Linked DNA regions of Homo sapiens: regions 1, 2 and 3 are each linked to region 4. The links come from fine-mapping of genetic effects on gene expression. A gene starts in region 4. Each other region holds a variant in brackets. All regions are shown on one strand. Distances are from middle to middle.

Region 1 (5,157 bases), 25 kb after region 4:
TGATGTTACTAGGTGACCATAAATTCTAGAGACATAATTATTTTGCCATGTGTTATAATTCAATAACAATAAATCCTTTATTGTATTTATCTGTGTTTCTAGACGTGGTGGCCACCCTGTATTTTGGTGAGATGTGAGATGTGACTGTGAAGTTGGTTTTCTTGTGTAACTGGTAAAGTGGTTCTAAAGTGATTCTTAAAGATAAGTTGGGCTGGGCGCAGTGGCTCACGCCTGTAATCCCAGCACTTTGGGAGGCCGAGGCGGGCAGATCACGAGGTCAGGAGATCGAGGCTCGAGCCATCCTAGCTAACACGGTGAAACCCCGTCTCTACTAAAAAAAAATATATATACAAAAAATGAGCCAGGCGTGGTGGCAGGCACCTGTAGTCCCAGCTACTTGGGAGGCTTAGGCAGGAGAACGGCGTGAATGCGGGAGGCAGAGCTTGCAGTGAGCCGAGATCATGCCTCTGCACTCCAGCCTGGGTGACAGAGACTCCGTCTCAAAAAAAAAAAAAGGTAAGTTGTGTTTTTGAGCCATGGCAGCATCATTGGTGCTAAATATACAAATCACACTCCTCTGGGATTATTACTTTGGCCAAAGATAATGTGAGTAAATTAGCTCCTTCTTTTAGCTGAAAAAGTTTATTTTGTTACTTTATCCTTGTACTTAGTAAGTGCAGACTCTCCTTCCTTAACTATTAGCCCTTATTTTATGCCCACCTTTTCTCTGTGCTCCCCAAATGTAGACTGACTACTCAGAAGCTAAAGACACATTCCCTTTAACTAACCTGTTTCCGTTACCCGTCTCTCTGGTGGTTGTTTATAAGGCAGGCTTCTTAGAGGAAGAAGAAAAGTAAAGGGTTAGATAATCTAACTAGGCAGTTAATCCTTGAAAACCAGAGTGGTAGCTCAATTTAGGATTTTCAGTTACATTTTAAAGCATTTCTTATTTGCTTAGAAAGGGAGACTATAGTAATTTTTGAATTTTATCCTATAGCTTACAAAGCATTTTCATAAAACTTTCTCCTTTTTCTGGTGGTAGTGATGGAGGGGGTTGGAGATACTTCTTTAGGCCTCTATTTGGGATAGGGTTTGAAATAGGATGAAACTTATTTGCTATTTATTTTTATTTTCTTCCTGTGTTTCTTTCTGTATCATATAAGCTCCTACTCTCCTATTATATCATTGAAACTCATGCTTTTTATCAGAATAAAGAGGTAAAATTCTTCCTTGTCTTTGGAAGGGACTTATACTTACTGTAGAGTTGGAGGAATCACTACAAAAGGCTGAGTAAAACAGAGAACCCTGAAAAAAGAGTTATTGTCCATTTATTTAGCACAGTTTCTGTGGTAGGGAGGCAACATTAAACATTATTTTAAAAACTGCATTTGTGAGATATTAATAGATGCCTTGGTTTGCTGCAAATTGGTTAAACTTTTTTTTTGGTAATATTTAAATCATAGAGATAGGACTTTTAGTAACTAAGTGTAGGTAAACACTATTTCATGATCAGTAATTATATATCTGGTTTTAAAGCTGTTTCAACAAAATGTTATTGGAAGACAGATTTTCTGCTACAGATGTTAAAACCTTTGGAATATGTGGGGCTGAAAGGACCAGTTCGGGTGTGATCTTAAAATTGGGCAGCTTGCCTTCTGCTTCAATGCTTGGTTCCACCCTGAAGAGGGGAGTTACACACCACTATGTGCACTTGACACATGCAAATGCTAAATTCAGTAGCAGCATGAGGTCTCTGTCATTAACAGTAATTTATGTAATGAAAGCCACCTGGCTTTTTTTTTTTTATAATTAATTGCTTGTAAATAATAAATTTAAGTGTAATTTATGGTTTTCTAAATTTGATTACCATGTAGACCCAACAGCAAACCCAAAAAAATTATCAATTCCATAATGTTCTTCTATGACTTTTAAAAGGTACACACACACACACACACACACACACACACACACACACATTTTAGAGTAAACATCAGATGAAAATACTTTTGGGGAGCAATAAGAATGTAATCAACTCCTGTTGGTTTTATTCAAGTTGGAATGCTAATTTTGAAATAGTCTCATTAAGTTTTATATTATTATGTCAGCTGACCTTTTAAAAGTATTTACACATATAGTTAGTACACTCAGAAGAAAGTATACCTACTTAACAGTAATATAGTAAAACTCCTTTAAAAAAAGCTTTTTCCCTATTTTGTAAAATTCCAATTATGTTTTCAAAAGAATTTATATATGAAGAAAAAGCACCTAAGCATATATGATGATATTTAACATATTGTGGTGATAATAAGAGGCTCTTTGCCTAATAGATTTACCAAGCACAATATCTTAGTTTAAAATGGCTTTACGGTAGTTCTTTTTGTTTATGTGGTCACATATATCAGCTGCCAAAGAATTGTGTTTTCTGACATAGAAAATATCTAAGATTCACATGGTTTAAAGAGAAAGGGGGATTTAGACCCTTGTCCTCTGTGCTTCTCTTTCATTAAAAAAGAAAGGAAAGACGGAAGTAAGGAAGGACATAATTTATGGCTTTATGTTTAAGATTTAACTACTGTTTAATGATGATTATATCAGACTTTCTCAAACTTTGAATCTGATTTCTTAAATTCATACCTCTTTCCTAGATGCATTTCTTTTAAATATCTATATTATTATTTTGTACTATAGCCGTGAAATCACTATCATTGTCAGTGTGTATAATACTTTTGTAAAGGATTAACAGATTAAAGGAGAATTTGAGTAGCTTTGACCTACAAATTTATAAACTGCAAAGACTTTTCTCCATATGTGACTAGCAGCATTTTTACTTCACCATGATTTAATAAAGTTTATATAAATCAATAATGCTGTTTTTGTAACTTGTATTTTTTTTTTAATCTGGAATTCTCTCTGTTCTTTGTAGAAACTCAACTAGATTATGAAAAAGTTAGTTCTGTTAAATAGCAAAATTGCATGTTGACTCCTTGCAAGATTGAGAGAGTCAAGTGAGGAGGTTTCCGCGTTAGCTGGAATTGTCTATAAAGAATAAAAATTTTGGCTTCTGTGTGTAGTCAGAGTGTGACCACCATCCATCACCTCAATAGCAGACATCAGATTTGTTCATCACTTGGTTTCCAAGGTCTA[A/G]TAATCCCTCAAGAATTTAGAGTGTTGTTGACTGTCCCCATTTACATCAGTGAAGGCTTTGCAACAGGTGCAGCTGTGTATACTAATTGCAGGGTGTGCCTAATCTGTCCAGAAGGGAGAGTACCTCCAAATTTGGTATCTTAAAGAGTGGAGTGACCTTTTAAAGTCCCAGAATGAGAATTGCCAACAATTCCAACAGGCTAATTATACCCACAAGGAGTTGTGAAGTGCTTTTAAGTTTTCCTGTACACCTAAAAGTTCAGTGAACGGCTTGAAGTCATTAACATATGACAGATGCACTCCCTTTTCAAGAGCTTGTATGATAAGTTTTGATTGTAGAAGTGGGAATTTGACCTCTAGCTTATCACTTGCTTCATTAGCGTGCTTGAGGACAAGGAGTTTTTTTTTTGTTTTTTGTTTTGACGTGAGTGTTATCTTACTCATGTTCCAGAATTCTATCTGCCTCCTTCTCTCTGCTGATCTGAAGTCACAGTAGATAACCTTGATGCTGGTTTTTTAAAAGCATCACGCATTGTGTAGTGTTACATATATTTTATATATAAATATATACACTATGAATATGTTTCTGAGCATGGGTCTTTCAAAGTTTTGATTCATTATTTTAGATATACTACCTCCCATGTGATTTCTGTTCTTTTTCATGGAAAAGGAAGAAATACACTTTTTGGCTCATAAAGATGACTGAAAGTCCGACTTCTACATTTCCACAAACTGACCACTTCTTGAAGTGAATGAGAATAAGGGAATGAAGTTTGGGACTCTGCACACACATGGAGGAAAGTATGCTACCCAAAGAATGAACGAATGCTAGAGGTGTACCCATAAAGAGATGCGGAAATGAAGCTTAGAAGGATTTCATGTGGTAAACTCTGTGACTGCAGCACTTAAATGAAATTGCTTTTTATTATCTGGTTGAAAAATCATCCAAAATAAGCCATACAGGACAAAGGCTAAAAAGCTTCTGGGTAAAAGCAGTCTTGGATAATTTAATTTTCTCCCACAGCAGTTCTGTATTTACCTGCTTATGATGTCTGTTTCAATTCCTTAAAAGACTGTATACCTAAACTTTATTTTAAAATGTTTTCTGTTAAATTAAAATCCTCTGTTTATAGAAGTCACTATTCCCTTAACCTCTAAGGGGGTTATGTAAATTTTATATTCCCTAAGGGCACAGTCATATTTAGCTGTGTTCCTGTCAATTACCAGCAAGCTCTTTTTGTACAATTAGGGGGTGGTTAATTTACTCTAGTAAGGTTGCCACCTGTCTAGGGATTAACCCAAACAGGTTGGAAGTCACAGAGAGACTTTTGAATTGAGGTTTAAAGCAGTAGGAGTTGATTTATTAACTCTCTACTACCATTTTGGTGGCATTTTCTGGGTTGATCAGTGGTACTTGTGACAGAAGGTGTTTTCTTGGTCCCTACGTTTGTGAGGTTGGAAAAGTACATTGTTAAAATTTTAAGTGTCACTGGAAATCTGTGAACAGTAGGTGTAATCATGCCTGGTACCCATGAAAATGAACTGGAAAGATCTTCCACTCCTCTCCATTGTTTCCAGTCTTATAATATCTTATCAAATTGTTGGATCAGTGGGAAGTGGCATCCTTAAATAATGTGGATAGTTTGAAGACTAGGATTGTGTTCAATGGAAATAACATCTTATCTGGTGTGTCAGGAAAATAAAACATGAAGAACATTGATGATATAGTTCACAGGAGAATACGAGGAGGTAATTTTACAGTATTTAAAATAAGCTGTGAGAAATACCCAATTTATTAGTTTAAAGAAACATGCCTTAAGTTTTCTGATACAATATGTAAAATATAATAGCTTACTTCATATGATCTAATATGCATTCCATCTGGAGTCTTGTTCCACTAGAAGTGTGCCCGCGATCATGACTGACTTCTTTGAGATCTGTGTGTGTGTCTCTTTCCCTCCCTCCCTTCCTCCCTCTTAACTTCCTTTTATTCCTTCTTCTGTCTTTCCTTCA
Region 2 (5,157 bases), 110 kb after region 4:
AGCGTTCTTAGTCATGGCCACTTACATATTAGTGATCTCTTCCTCACATGGGTTCATGAGAGTTGGAATGTACCATGACTGGGGTCCATACAGAGAAGGTGCTCCTATTTTCTTAGGCCTCTGCTGGCATTATGGGCAACATAAAAGAATGTGTCTGCCATTACCATGTGGTGACTCGAGTGGCAGGCCAGAGAGAGTTCCCTCTAGAAGGTAATGAAAGGTATGGACAACTGCTTTGGTCCCCTCTGACTGGCCAGGCCTTAGAATTAGGTTGGGAATACTGAGTTTCCCAGGCACATTATTTTTTTAATACTATTGCTGCTGTAATCTTTTCTTTTATAAGAAGATGATTCATTGTTTCCTATTCCCGATATTTTTACCACTTATCAGTGGTAATTGCTTTCAGAAATAATTGAGTCCAACCCTATGGTTTGTATGAAGTAAATACCTAAGTTTGATTTGATTCTTACTATTACTTGAACTTAGCAAAATAGTGCTTTAGCTGTCTTCTCTAGAGACCACACAAGAACACTTTATTTCGGTAGTCAGCTTAAATAATATTTTCACTTTCTACAGATAGCAATGGGCATTAAACTTGGGAAGCTATGTAACTTGCCAAGGTTGCAGAGCCAGTTGTAGAGATAGGGCTGGATAGGATAGCTGGGTGATGCTCTTTTGGAGATTCCATATGACCTTTTCACTTGCAGTGCAAACACGTGTTCACAAATGGCTAAGTACATAAGTGTTGCTATAAGCATGTAGTTATATGACTAACAGTGGGCAGTAATTAAAATAATCATGCTTCATTTTTTCTTTGCAGACCCAATACTATTTTTAAGTGAATAAGATGTAATTTCCTTATTTATTTCCACAGTATTTACTAACATTTTTTTCTTTTTTTTTTTGAGACAGAGTCTCGCTCCGTTGCCCAGGCTGGAGTGCAGTGGCTCGATCACTGCTCACTGCAACCTCCGCCTCCCGGGTTCATGCCATTCTCCTGCCTCAGCCTCCCGAGTAGCTGGGACTACAGGCGCCCACCACCACACCCTGCTAATTTTTTGCATTTTTAGTAGAGACGGGGTTTCACCTTGTTAGCCAGGATGGTCTTGATCTCCTGACCTCAAGATCCACCCGCCTCGGCCTCCCAAAGTGCTGGGATTACAGACGTGAGCCACCGCGCCTGGCCACTAACATTTATCTTATGTATCAGTGTTCTTATAGTATAGAGCTTGATAAAGAACATAATCTTAAAAGAAAACAAGTTAGACCCGAAATTATCTCAGAACTTGAATGATGATAATTAGATAATTATTCAGTATGCATTTTAATTTGTGCTTGTGTGGATCAGACCATAAGCCATTTTGCTAAATTGTGGTGAATAATTCCACTGGAGGCCTTGAAATAATCGATACCTAGGCAACACGTGACTTAGCTTCAGCCTAGAGACCTGCCCTTCTCCCATGCATTAAAAGGAATTCTGGCTACTGTGGCTGCCACATGCCTAGTGAGCAGCGAGGTCAGGATCTCCTACCTTGCTTTCCAAAGGATGTCACTTGCTATAGCACCTTCATCAGATGCCTCCCTTAGTGCCCCCTCTTCTTCTATAGCAGTTCCCTTGGGGTTCAACTTAATTTGCAAGTTGAGGCATATTTTGGGTGGAAAACTTGTGTGTGTGTGTCTCTCTCTGTATATATTTTCCTTATTTAAGATTCTCTCAATTCAGTCAGTTTTACCTACTTTCCTCACTTGTGGAATGGAGATAGGATTTTATGGCAGTTGATGAGAATTATTTTGGAAAGGTTTAGAATTAGAAGATTCTTTCATGGCTGAAAGCCATTTTAATTGATATAATTAAAGCATATGTATATGAAGAGTTTAGTGAAGACAGGTCAGATTCAAAGACTTCAGATCTGACCTGTCTTCATTAAACTCTTCATATACATATGCTTGGTTATAAAATAACTACCTGCAAAAGGTAAATATTTTCTGATTTTTTTTTTTTTACCCCAAATGGGCTTTTCGGAAGCTTATTTATCTACAAAAGAGACATATGCTTTAGGTCTGTACTTGTTAATTTACCTTGGAAAAATTAGGTCATCATCAAATCTGGTAGTGTGGCTTATAAACTTGGCAAAATGGTCTAATTAAAAGCTTCTGTTAGATTATAGAAAAAGGAAAAAATGATTAATGCCAGTCATATTTTTGTTTTCATGGTTTGTGTATATGTAGATATATGTCACTCCTCATGTTGCATTAAAAGTATGTTGACTATCTGCTAACAGTTCATCTCTTTTCTTCTACAGCCTCCAAGTCTATTATAAATAGTATGCTACGGGACCCTTCTCAGATTCCAGATGGAGTTCTAGCAAATCAGGTCTATCAGGTATTAATCACAGCTGTCTATTTTCAGTGGCAATGCTGTTATCTGCCTAGCAGAGTAAAGGATTTTAAACCTCATTTAATTACTGTCATCATAAACTATCACTGAGGTCAGGGTGCACCATAAATGGCAATGCAGTATTTGCGAGAAGAGCATTTCACTTTTTAATAGCTTGCTTTTATAGTGAATAAAAAGCATGCAATTTTTGTTTTCTGTGATTAAATCCGAACCGCCTTTTGATAGCTTTCTTTTTTTGGGGGGCGGGGGTGGGGGAAGAAAAGTAATTACTGCTTTTAGGATATTGTTTACTGTAATAGTTTTTGTAGCCGCCCCACCCCAGACCCCTTTTCTTATTTGTCTGCAGTGCATTGTGAACGACTGCTGTTACGGACCACTAGTGGACTGCATCAAGCAGTATCCTTTCCCATAAAATTTTAGGTGCGCAATTGACGAGCTTAGACTCAGTGGAGATGTGTCTAGCTTTAA[C/G]CTGACATAAAGTTCTGCTTCACAAAACACATTTCATACTCTTCTATTTTACATTCAATCAACTGGAGGGTCACTACAGACCATTCTTTTCTACAGCTTAAGAAATATCAGGTAGACCACAGGAAGATGTCAGTTCAGCAGTCACACATTCACATGCTTCTTTCAAACTGCCTGGTTTTCAATGAGTTTACAGGTACAGAGTCATTAGGCAGGTAACGTAATGTCTTGGAATGTATCTACCCATCCCAGTAAACATTTTTTAAAAATATAACAAATTTCCATTTAAAATGAGCCAAATTTTGTTGAATTTACGAGAATAAATTTAGAGCCTGGAGTTAAAGGAGGTTGTGATTAAAATGCTTCCAGAGACATCACATTTTAAAGGCAACAGATTCTTATTGCTTAAATGCTGATTACAATCTGAGCCGGCATTTGGATTCCTAATAAACATTTTTAGAGAAATCAAGTTAATTTTTCCTCCTGGAATACATTTAAGGTTGTGAAAACAGATGTCCAGTCACTTTTCATTAAAGACATTGAGATTACTAAAGAGTTAATGTTCACTTTTTAAAACAAGATTGAACAGACAGTAACTACATAAAGTAGGACATTATTAATCAATAAATTTAGTAGTACTGTGGCAACAGCAAGGTTTTTGATAATCCTCAAAGGTGCTATTTAAATGGTAAATAATGAGTAATTTTTATGAGAATAATTTCTATCCGAGTCCATGAATTTCACCCCTCTTAATAATATAAACATGTCCCTCCTGGTATGGATTTTGTTAGCATGGATGGCACTGTGATGAATTGTGACTCAGTAATTACTAGTTAGGAGGCTTTTTGTTGGAAACTCCTGCTAGTCAAATCGTGTACATGTATGTGTTTATATTCCACCTTCTTTCACAAAGGCTTAGAGTCGTAACATTTTTAATAAGAAAATCATGCCTATATAAGTAAAGTTAATCTTTGATGAATAACCTTTGAACAGAGCCCTCTTACAAGAATATTCAGTATTGAAGATACAGCCCTTTATGTATTTCTCCTCCAAGTCTGTTTCTCCAGTCTAGCTTAAATTAGTAAAAACACACAGCATTATCCCAAGCTCACCTTTTTATTAAACCAAAGTGAAATTGTACTTCTATATTCAGTATAAAATTAATGATAGTGTTAGAAACTGTAGGAGTACCAACCTTATGTTGCTAACACTGAGAAAGTTTAGCACATTCATATATCAACTAACACCATCTCAGAGTATCTGGGGTTGAATTACATGTTAATTTTAAAGCACATAAAATAGTTAAAAATCAATTTAAAGTTAAGGTTTTAAAAGCATAATGTCTTTTGAAGGATTGCATATTGATTTTAAATATAACTATCTAATTATGTATGCACGGACTAAAGTATGAAGTCAACTGCTTTGTAAATGCCAGGAGGCTATTTTTCAGTAATAGTTGAGATGCTTACGGGAAACTAGATTGCTGTATTGCTGGTGAAGAAAATGGCTTGTGAGGTTATTTACAAGTTTTGCCCATGGTCACTGCCATACATCAATAATAGGTATTATTATAGACAAAGTCTAAGTGTTTTTGCTTATACAGCATTATAAATTCTGTCTGGAGTATTTTCCTTACATTTTTGCCACCATTCACTTTCCTTTTTTGGTTGTGTTATTGCCAGTAGAATTTAATGTAGTACATGATTTCAATTGATAAAGATAATGACGTATGTCTATAAATTACATTCACCGACTAGGTTATAATTTTTGCAGTTTCATTATGTCTGTTGCCAGTAAAACTACAGATTTTATAAGTTTTATTTTCTAGACTTTGCATTTCATATATGTTTATATCAAGCAAAGCATAATTAAGAAACATATCTTTCCAAAATTTCAACTTGGTGATTGCTTTTGTCATGCAAAATAAAACAGGCTGGGAAGTTTACAGAGAAACTGATGTTGTCTCTGCATTGAAGTAGTAGCAGTTTCATATAATGTATAAATGCACTTGCATAGATGTTTCCTAGACTGATCAGCATAATTATTTTATTTCACACTGAATAAAAATTATTGTTTTTCCATGTGAGTAAATGTGCTGTTTGTTTTTCTGATAGTTTAGTAATATTTACATTGCTTACTCTCAGTAAATTACATCATGATGTGAGAAAGAAAGCACACATTCAGTAAATAAGATAGGTGCTAAACCTTCTTAGTGCCTTATGAAAATGTTATGTTTGTGTAAGTAGAATAAAGTAAGTTGGTCATTTACTAGTAAGACATCACAGAAAGCACAG
Region 3 (5,157 bases), 140 kb before region 4:
ATATACAGATTTTCTGCATCAGGAAGGAGGATATGTTCAACCTACAAACATTTGGCCTCAGATCTTTTATGGGAGAAAAACAAAGCCAAAAAGCCCCCAAAATGATCATGAATATTCTCAAATAAAATTCCAAAATGGCAGAGCCAATTTTCACAAGTTCCTTTGCTTGCTAAAAAAGCACAAAGTACAAGCAGACAAGCAAATGTTTCAGAATTTGTGTTTTCCATAAATACAGAAATCTTGTAATTATCTCAAGAACCATACATTATTTATTTAGTTCCATGCCTTAATGAAGGAAGACTCAATGTTTATCATATTAAAATGGGAAGTTGAGGGGTAAGGTGGGGAGGAGAAAAAGCATGGTTCTTTTCCTAATGAATCTGGCCTTATGTTTCTTCAATTTTTTATCAGCAATTTTATGCTCTGCAGGTAGTAAACATAAATGGTGACAGCCAAACATGCATTTTGCATCATAACAAACCCATTGGATCTGCAAACAGTTGTTTAAGGTGCTTCTTTCCATCAGGAAAAACAATAGCATTTATTAGCAGTGTTTCACTCCACTCACATGATTTGTGTGTTCTTCACTCTCAAAGTGTCAGCTGTCAAATGAAATGATGGGGACTGACAGTTCAGAATTTTAAAAGTTCAGCTCCTTTCAAATGCATTAAATGAACAAGAGCTGCCTAATTTGGGCTGAAGAAAAAGCAACAAAAATCCCCTGTAAGTATGCAAGGTTTTATTCTACTTTTGCATGCTTAGTATGCATAGAGAATGTTAAATACTTTTCAGCTGGATACACTGTTAATTCTATGAGTGAGAAAGATTTCATTAGGTGAGCTTCAGGCAAGACTAGGCTACAAATGGAATTCCCTTTTATTTTCTGAAATTCACAGTATATGACCCATATCCAGTGATAAATGGTCTATAAATTCTCTTGCTGTATTTAATTGCATAAACTTCCATTATATTCTACTATTAACATGGGAACACTTTGACACAAGATGTCAGAAAAGGGAAAACGAATAAAAAAAAAAACCCTTTACTCTTAAAATCAAAATAATCTTCATGTCCCACAGAATCATGTTCAACATACAAGTTCCAAGCACACAATTTTAAATATTTTTTCAGCCAATTAGTTACTTTTAATTTTGGTAGTACAAAAATCTATTAATCACTATTTAATTATCTGGAGCTCTTGCCTGCCTAATTAGTGCTTTCCGTATTGCATCTTCAACTAAACTGGGGACCCTATCAACTCATTTATCTGATACGTATTTGGTGCACTGGTGAGTTAATTAATGAAAAAAGAAAAAAAATCTCATTTAGATGGTTCATTCAAAAAAAAAAAAAGCTTATTAAGCACTTTGAACATTAAATAAGCCGACTGATTATATTGGGTTTTCATTGCCCTAAAAAGCATTATATAAATGCAAAATCCCATGTGACATTTCTTGGTAAATATACATTGTAGAAGGAATCAGAAGAAGCAGTGATCAGTTGAGTAACAATCCCTCTTAAGTATACCGCCCGAGGCAGTGGGCTTTTGAAATCTTTTGTACAAAAATGAGGACAATAATTAGATACAAGATTTTATTTGGAATTTTTTCATGTTAGGAACGCTAAACATAATTATAAATGAAATTACATTGTTATATTCTAGGTAATGTAGTGTAAAATGGTCTATACTATAACTATGCTTATAATACTGAGGAAAACAAAGAGAAATTTCCTGAATCCAACCCATCCCTTTACGACATCTCCATGTTGCTCTTCCTTGCCAACAGGCTATGCACTTGTCCTCAGGCATCTAGCTAAGATAATGACACCCCCAGCGAGGCTTTCATAAGCATCCTCAGTCTAGGTTAGGGTCCCCTCCTAGATGTTCTCACAGTACCTAGACATAAACCTTTGTCTTTATATTCACTATGAAGCAGTGGGTGGTGGAGCACCATGGTAAAGAACATGGCTTTGGCCTCAGAAAAAGCTAGGTACAAATCTAGTGTCAGCCACCAACCAGATTGTTAGAATAAAGGAAATGATCTAAGTAAAGCATCTAGTGTGGTCTCTGACACATAGTAAATGTATCATAGTAACTAGTCTTTAAAAAATTTTTTTAAAGATCTCCGCTGTACTGTTTGCTCAGGACAGTAGAGAGTGATGTGTCTCCTACTAGATCCTGAGCTTTCTGCATGATCTAGCTCTATATCTCCAGGGCCTAGCACAGTGTCTGATGGACAGTGAGCACCCATATATGCATGTGTAATAGATGGATAGAACAATGAATCTGCAGCAAAGGAGTCTAAGCAATTTAAGAATAAAATAAGCAATCTGAAGCCAAAATGCCCCTC[C/T]TTCTTACATAGCACAGTGACAACTCCGAGGCACAAATGTTTAAATGCTTAGAACATAGTTCACTTTCAAAAACATATTAGCTATTTAGCTGTTATTAATCCCTGCATTGTTTTCTCTGAATCTTCAGTAGATTGTCAGATAGACACAGGTATCTGATTCCTCATCAAGAAATCCCCCGTAGGAAATCAAAAGTTGTCATAGCATGAAAATATTCACTGGTGAACTGAGCAATTGTAAAATTAGTAGCAACCCAAACTCCCCTCTGCAATTAATATAGTGCCTACCTTAATCCACAAAATCAACATCTTGATCAGTTATAATCCTGCTAACAATCTGATAGTTACAACTTCCCATGTAAATAGAAAAAAAACCTAAAAAGTTAAATTGAAAATCTTTTCAAAATGCAGGACTTCATACAATTTATTCAAGTGATATTAGAGACTTGCTCAAGTCACAGGCAAAGATTTTGTGGCTCCATCAAGGTCAGAAAATTGAAAATAGGGAAAATGAAAAAGATAATGAGATTCAAAAGGGAATAAGCTAAAAACCAAATAATTAGGAAAACTCATTTGAAAATTTAAAAAGCCATGGAATATCTTTGCACAATTGATTCTTTTTATGAGCATGATCTTCAAGTCAAGTACCCAGTGGAGAATTTAATACCCTAAAATTATGCTGGGAAGATAATTGAAAAAAATTAAGATTTGGCTAATTTTTCATTTGTTCTAAGGACTAGAGAATCGTTTTCATTGTTAAGCATTTTTTTTAATTTTTTTCATTATGTTCTATTTTATTTTTAGATAAAGCTCAACCAAAGCTTTCCATTTTCCACTATTGTCCACAAAAGGTTGGCTTCAATTTTGAATAGATTCACTCTAAGTGGCCTTTTCTGGTACCAGTCACACACTGATTTGAGAGAGAGGATTGTTCTTTGAAGTGGACACCACCAGCACTCCTCCTGCCACATTCCACTGTCCTCTTATGGCTTCCAGAGGACCCTAAGAAGCTAATGAGCCATCTTCTATTCCAGTTCATGGGCAATGCATGTTTTAAGGAGAAAAGCAGGGGGAGTTGTGCACAGAGATGTTAGCGAGGCAACTCTCTTCTCAAGAAGAGTTCCTCGGCATATTACAGTCCCCCTTTCTGGGAGCCCTTTCTTTCCAGAGAAACAAGATGATGGAAAGATATGAAACCTTCTGCACTGAGTATTTAATACACAGTGACTCCATAACTAAATCACATTCAGGGCCAGATACTGCAATGCTCCAAAGAGTCAACAAGAACCATGTCTTTCTGGACATAATATGTAGACTATTCCAGAATGCTTTAAATCCTCTCCCTTCTTTTTTTCTCTCCTTACATAACCATTGGTTGGAAAAGAAAAGAGAAAATTTATAAAACATTTTTAATTCATATTTCTCTCTTACGTTGAAATTACAAAATCACAAAAAGGAGAAATGCATAATACCAAACAGTTTATATTTTATTATAACATATTCAAGTTCAATATTCTTTGAAATGATTCTATGGTCTGTATTTTTTATCCAACGATATTTACTTTGTATCATTGGTAATTATGTACTACACATCCTGTGTTTTTCAACTGTGACAAGGTAAGTACTTTTGTTTCTATTTTAGTGATGCCTTTAAAGAAAAATTCAAATACATTCATCAGAATACCAAAGGTAATTTTTTTTCTCAAGCTCCCTGTCAAGATAGTTCAGCTCTAATTCAGGCAAATTCCTGACAGATATCAGAGTTCTATTTACTGATTATCTATTCTTCCCATTGGGATCATAAGATTTTAAGTGAAAAAATCTAAAAGATTTATTGCTAATGGCATTCTACAAATGTTATCTTTGTTCAGAGTAAAAGTAATATATGATCCTGGCTTTGTAGAGCATCTTTAATGTTCCTTTTTTGAATATGTATAACTCATTTAGAGACCAAGAATAGACAGTAACTCATCATTTTTCCTACCTGCCTTAAAATATCTGCATTTTGTCTGTTTGAAAATAATACAAACTTGTGATTTAATTGATGTCATAACTTCGATTCATCACCACATTCATTATAAACAAAGAGGCTCTGGATAATGAACAAAATGCTTATTGTTCACCAGAAGAAAGGGCATAACATGTTATATTTACATTTATGTCGTGTCTTATTACTAAGTCTGTATAAACCATCTCCCTTCATTATTTCTGAATGGGAGACTGATGATAAGTGCTGTTTTCAAGATTTTTTTAATCCTTTTTATTTGTCTAGCTAATTTGTGTGCTGAAGCATTGCAAAGCTAACTCTATGTTTTGCTCGTTAAGTTATTAGGGATTTGTAACTCCCGAAAATCAAGAATGAGTTCCTAAGTGTAACATTTGCATGGGTCGACAGCTTCAGGGGAGAGAGGTCAGCTGCCCCAGTGAAGGAAGAAGAAATCTGTCTGTACGATCCTAATTTGCTTTGAATAATAGACATTGGGCTTGGAATTGGAATGATTTGTTGTTAGGTTAAGCAACAGGGAAGCTTATGGCTTATTTTTACTCCTGATACAAGTGAAGCAATGGTTGAGTAATGAGACAGCCATAGATAATCATAATGATACTAGGCAATGAATTGTGTGTGCCTGGGCGATAGTGCAGGTTTATCAGACTATGATGGCCAATAAGCTATTACAAACTATAAATATTCAGATTAGTCAAATCTTTGTTACATCTTTCAATAGCTACTGGCATGTTTTTCCCCTCCCACTTTATAATTTTGGTGATTCTGACTCCAAGCCTTATCTAACAATTGAAGGAAGTTTAA
Region 4 (5,157 bases):
TGCCATAAATAAATAGTTATGTACTAATGTCACACAATCAGAGCTAGATGCAAAGCATATGGGAAGAAAACATTCTGATGTCAATATTCAGGAAAAACTATGGTTGTTAAATTCAGGATCCACTGTTGGTATTGGATTTTGAGATGCCTCAGAAAATTAAAAGTAGTGAAGTTTTTAAAAACCAAGGCTAAAAGATTCTTTGAAATGTACAATATTCCCTTTAAAAAAAAATCCTTAACCTTTGGCTTAAGACAGTGTGACTATTTGATGTAGTAATTAAGCATTACTGAAAGTTGGCAAGAGCACTGACTCTGGAACCAAATTTCAGGAGTTTAAATCTTACTACTGCTACTTATCCTCATGACCTCTAGAAGTTCCTTAACCTTTTCATGTCTTAGTTTTTTCACTCTGTACAAAAGGGAAGAGGAGGATAACAGCAATAGTACCTGCCTGGCAGGAAGTTATGAGGATTAAGCGAGTCTGTGCATGGGGAGCCTGTAAAACAATACCTAGTAAACGCCCTGTCCATTTTTATCAAGTAGTCTTACTTAGCCTATTTATTTATGGCCAAAACCGCAGTTGCTCTTGCACCAACCTAATATTTCACATAGACTATCCTCTAGACACCACGCTATATAATCTTTTATTTGTACCAGCCTGTTAATCTTAAAAACAGCCCATGCCCGGGCGAAGTGGCTAATGCCTGTAATCCCAGTACTTTGGGAGGTAGAGGCTGGAGCATCACTTCCGGTCAGGAGTTTGAGACTAGCCTGGTCAATAAAGCGAGACTTCATCTCTAGAGAAAAATTTTAAAATTAGCCAGGTGTAGTGGCATGTGCCTGTAGTCCCAACTACTCGGGAGGCTGAGGTGGGAAGATCGCTGGAGCCCAGGAGTTCGAGGGTGCAGTGAGCCACGATGGAGCCACTGCACTCCAGCCTGGGCGACAGAGTAAGACTCCATCTCTACATCAAACATACACAAATAAAACACCTCCATGAATTAAATCAGTTTTACAGACAAAAGAAATGAGGCTTCGATGGATTAAGGAATTTATTCAAGGAGGTATATCTAAAACTTCCAACCCAGGCATTATTCCAGATGAAAAATTTTAAACCACTTACAGGTTCTCTAAAGTCTAAGCACCTTTGCTTTAGTTTGCTTAAATTGTTGAAATCAGAAGAGAAACACAACACATGACCTTCTAAGAACCAAACAGATTTTAGAAAAGAGATTAAATGAGGGACTGATATCCCAACAAATTGCTTTAGGAGAACTGAGATCCATTCACAATACATATAGAAAATAAAAAAAGATTGGCTCATTACTCCAAACATTTATTGAGCGCCTACTATTTTCTGAGAACTGGGGTTACAATAAGATGCGATTTTAGACCTTGAGCAGCTAACTGCAAGGAGTGAAAGTGACTTTTTTTTTTTTTTTTGAGACGGAGTCTCGCTGTCGCCCAGGCTGGAGTGCAGTGGCGCGATCTTGGCTCACTGCAAGCTCTGCCTCTCGGGTTCACGCCATTCTCCTGCCTCAGCCTCCTGAGTAGCTGGGACTACAGGCGCCCGCCACCACGCCCGGCTAATTTTTTGTATTTTTAGTAGAGACGGGGTTTCACCGTGTTAGCCAGGATGGTCTCGATCTCCTGACCTCGTGATCCGCCCGCCTCGGCCTCCGAAAGTGCTGGGATTACAGGCGTCAGCCACCGCGCCCGGCCAAAAGTGACATTCTTTACTGCCGGCTGTTTGATGACGTCGGATTTGTTTCAAGTCTGTTTCTCAACAAGGACAAAACTGCCTTCCACGCGATGTACAGAAGTTGTAGGGCTTCCTCAACACAAGCCAAATTATGTTTACAGCGACCCTAGTGAGTTTTCCTGCTCGGACCATGACAGACTTGGTAGAGTGAAGACATGGTTTCTCGGCAGGCCAGTCCACGCTCCGAGGAGCGCTCAAACTGGCGCGTTAGGAAGTGTATTCAAATCGCGCGCTCTGGCAGGGGCTTTCGGGGGCTCACGCTGAAGGATCGCGGGGCACTCGTGAGACCTGCCGCCTGGTCTGTGCGTCAGGCCGCCCTGGCTTCTAGTAATTGGGAGAGTACAAAGCATCCCTTGTTGACCCTTTGATCCTAGGTGGGCGATGCCCTGGATTCCTACCTGCCTACTGAAACTCTGGCGCGGCGCCTTTCCAAGGGCGGCCGCTACTTCCTGGTTGGTTTGCCCTTAACTGACATGGCGGCTAGTTGCCTTCGGCGCACCACTGCGGCTGCTCAGTAAGCCAAGCTAGGGCACTCTGGTGTACAGCCAGTCCCCGCCGCGGAGGTGCCGGTGGAGCCTGGGACCGGGCGAGTCTCCGCCCCGCTTTTGCAGCTAGGGGTGTGTTTCAGGGGGGATTGGGGCAAGCCAAGCAGGCGAGGACCCGGGCCTGTGCCGCTTTGCCTACCCCTCATCCCTCGGCACCAAGGCTACTTGAGCCCCAGGGTGTTTTTTCCTTGTTCCCGCCACCTCCTGGTCCCTGGCCCAACATGATACTGACCAAAGCTCAGTACGACGAGATAGCCCAGTGCCTAGTGTCTGTGCCGCCTACCAGGCAGAGCCTGAGGAAGCTGAAGCAGAGGTTTCCCAGGTAAGTGTCCATCTCTCCCCTCTCACAGCCCTTTGCCTGCAGCAGCAGTGCCTGGGCCGCCCAGGCAGCGCTTAGGAACCACGTGTCACACATGAGTGGGGAGGAACACCAGTGTCAGGCGTTAGGAGGTCGAGGTTGGCGAAAAAAGGTTTATTCTTTCACTCGCCTTCCACACAAAACTCTTAACGGTGAGTTCATGGCAGCCTTCCAAGGCCTTGCAATTAAATTCAAGTCAACAGATATTTATGGAAAACGTGGTACGTGCTAGGTGATGGGTGAACATAGTAGGTGCTTCATAAATGACCAGAGGTTAATTGACAGATAGTAGGAATGAATGATGGGTGGGAATATGAATTGTAGATTCGAAAGGAGCAAATGGAGGACCCTTTTCAATTGGCCGTTGGAAACAAACAAGGGAGCATAGAGGTAAAGCGGCTTCATACTGTTTGACTGTGGCTTGTACTGTTAACTGTGGAATTAAGTGACCTCAAGGGTTCTCAATCCAATCAGAGAGCAGGGTACCCAGGGATTCCACTCTTGGGTCATTGGCCATTTGAACAACCAGATCTAAAGTTTCTCCATATATGTTATGCATACACACATTCCGGGTGTATTTCATACTTCCTCCCCCAAACACTTCTTTTTTCAGCGATTTTAGAATTATCCAACTTTCTAAGAAAGGACTTTGGGAATTATGTAGATTTCTCATTTTAATGAAGTGGAAACTGAGACCCCAACATTACATGAGGAACCAGTTGAGGACAACCAGGTCACTGTATTTATGTTGTGTTAAAAGCAGAGAATGTTTGTTTACTTTTTTCCTAATGAAAAACCAAATCCAAACCTGTACCATTTTGTTTTGTGGCACTGAGCATGGTTATTCCTAATGGAGAGCTTCCCCATCCTTGACGTATTCAGTCCCTGAACAAACACGACAGAAGTAATTTCTTGAGAAAAGAAAGGTAATTGGATAATAGGTATCAAAGTACAAATTGAAGCATAAGTTTAAGTTCTGTTATGACTTTGCTTTTTGAAGGACTTGGTTTTCCTAGTCTGTAAAATGAAGGAGTCTCTTTTCAATATTATCCAGATTTGATTTAGGGCAATATTTATCCCTTTATAGCCTTTAGTATTTTATCAGACTTGCTAAGAAGGAACAAAATTGACACATAATTTAATTTTCTGTCATTAACTCTTGCCAGTTCTGCACATGAACAGTGAAATGGGTGAAGACTGGTCAGCCAAGGGAATAGGTAGATTTTTCTGGGCAGTTTTAAGAAAGAGCATACATTTTGATATTCTCCTCTCACTATGTATGCAATCACTTGTAATTTTGCTTTTTTTTCTCTTCCTCTCCCTCTTTTTCTCTTTTTCGTTCTTTTCTCTAGCAAATACCTTGTCTTCTCTATAATAAGTAAGTGTCTGTTACTTTAATCAACACTTACAAAAGCCTCCCTTCTGTCTGGTGTATTCTCTTATGCTCTTTTCTTTCTTATTCATGATATACTCAAATCTTTTTCACTTCTCCCAAATGCCATACAGGGAATAAATAACAACTCTCCTTCCACAGGAAACTTTATTTAGAGAGAGCTGAACTACTAATCCGCAAAAGAAGGGATTAAAGAGCTATTTAGGGCTGGGTGTGGTGGCTCACGCCTGTAATCCCAGCGCTTTGGGAGGCCGAGATGGGAGGATCACTTGAGGCCAGGAGTTCCAGATCAGACTGGGCAACGTAGCAAAACCCCGTCTCTAATAAAAATCCAAAAAATTAGCTGGGTGTGGTGGCATGTGCCTTTAGACCCAGCTACTCAGCTACTCCTGAGGCTGAGGTGGGTGAATCACCACATCAAGGTGATTGTTACCTTGTTGCATTACAATCCATTGGCCTATTTTGAACTTGAATGGATCTTTTACCCATGCCTGATTTGTTATCATCGTGCATTATTCCTTTGTAAAATGTTGCTTGTGAGTTGTGCAGATCTTACAAATGTCACCTTTCATTATACAATATCAAAAAATTACATTTGTTAATATCATCTCTAATCTCATCAGAAGTCTGTAAGATTTGAAGCTGTCAAGCTTGTGGTGATGGATATGAGCATTCCAGTATTTGAATTTTCCCTTGAAAGCTCAAATTTTATCATTGGCAACAAATGCTATTAGTTGTTTTCCTTGAAATGACAGGCTCACATTGTTTATTTTTGAGAAAGTGTCTGCCAGATACTTAAATCTGAATAATATACTTTGTTATCATTAATTCAAGTAAAAATGGTGTTCCCTAGAAAAAGTAGCTAGTTCAGCTCTCAAACAGTCATACAAGTGCTTTCCTGGGAGGCAACCATCATACTTTGATATGAAGTATATGTGCTTTGTATTTACTCTAGTCATACAGAATGTTAAAAGGTTGTGTATTCAAGGGTTGAGATTTAATGCAATTAATAAGAGAATATTCTTTAGTGAAAGTCTTGTTTTGTTTTGTTTTTCCTGCACGTGTGTGGCAGTGAATACAGTGACTACTAGTACAGTTAT

Direction of the effects. Positions count from the first base shown, and alleles are read on the strand shown. Sizes are in standard deviations (SD) of each study's normalised expression. Not every link is listed here.
For the expression in skeletal muscle of the gene that starts at base 2,293 in region 4, G is the high allele of the variant in region 1 and A is the other (moderate effect, 0.70 SD a copy in GTEx).
In carriers of allele C in region 3, the expression in monocytes of the gene that starts at base 2,293 in region 4 tends to be lower than with T alone (large effect, 1.4 SD a copy in Fairfax 2014).

Evidence for each region.
Region 1: its variant is fine-mapped to the expression of CDIN1 in skeletal muscle (GTEx, PIP above 0.99).
Region 2: its variant is fine-mapped to the expression of CDIN1 in tibial nerve (GTEx, PIP 0.90).
Region 3: its variant is fine-mapped to the expression of CDIN1 in monocytes (Fairfax 2014, PIP 0.95).

The regions. Positions count from the first base shown.
Region 1 is chr15:36,602,482-36,607,638 of GRCh38, forward strand. All of the region lies in intron 1 of CDIN1 (CDAN1 interacting nuclease 1), which reads left to right. Among named protein-coding and RNA genes, the nearest start is that of CDIN1, 25 kb to the left of the region's middle. The variant A/G (reference allele first, on the strand shown) is at 3,145.
Region 2 is chr15:36,689,382-36,694,538 of GRCh38, forward strand. CDIN1 (CDAN1 interacting nuclease 1) reads left to right here. Exons shown (of 11, transcript NM_001321759.2): 6 at 2,304-2,383; 7 at 2,745-2,794. Among named protein-coding and RNA genes, the nearest start is that of CDIN1, 110 kb to the left of the region's middle. The variant C/G (reference allele first, on the strand shown) is at 2,867.
Region 3 is chr15:36,433,766-36,438,922 of GRCh38, forward strand. It overlaps LOC105370769 (a long non-coding RNA gene), which reads right to left. Exons shown (of 4, transcript XR_932111.3): 4 at 3,816-5,157. Among named protein-coding and RNA genes, the nearest start is that of CDIN1, 140 kb to the right of the region's middle. The variant C/T (reference allele first, on the strand shown) is at 2,352.
Region 4 is chr15:36,577,334-36,582,490 of GRCh38, forward strand. It overlaps CDIN1 (CDAN1 interacting nuclease 1), which reads left to right and starts at 2,293. Exons shown (of 11, transcript NM_001321759.2): 1 at 2,293-2,628. The coding sequence starts at 2,528. RefSeq lists an enhancer at 2,412-2,531.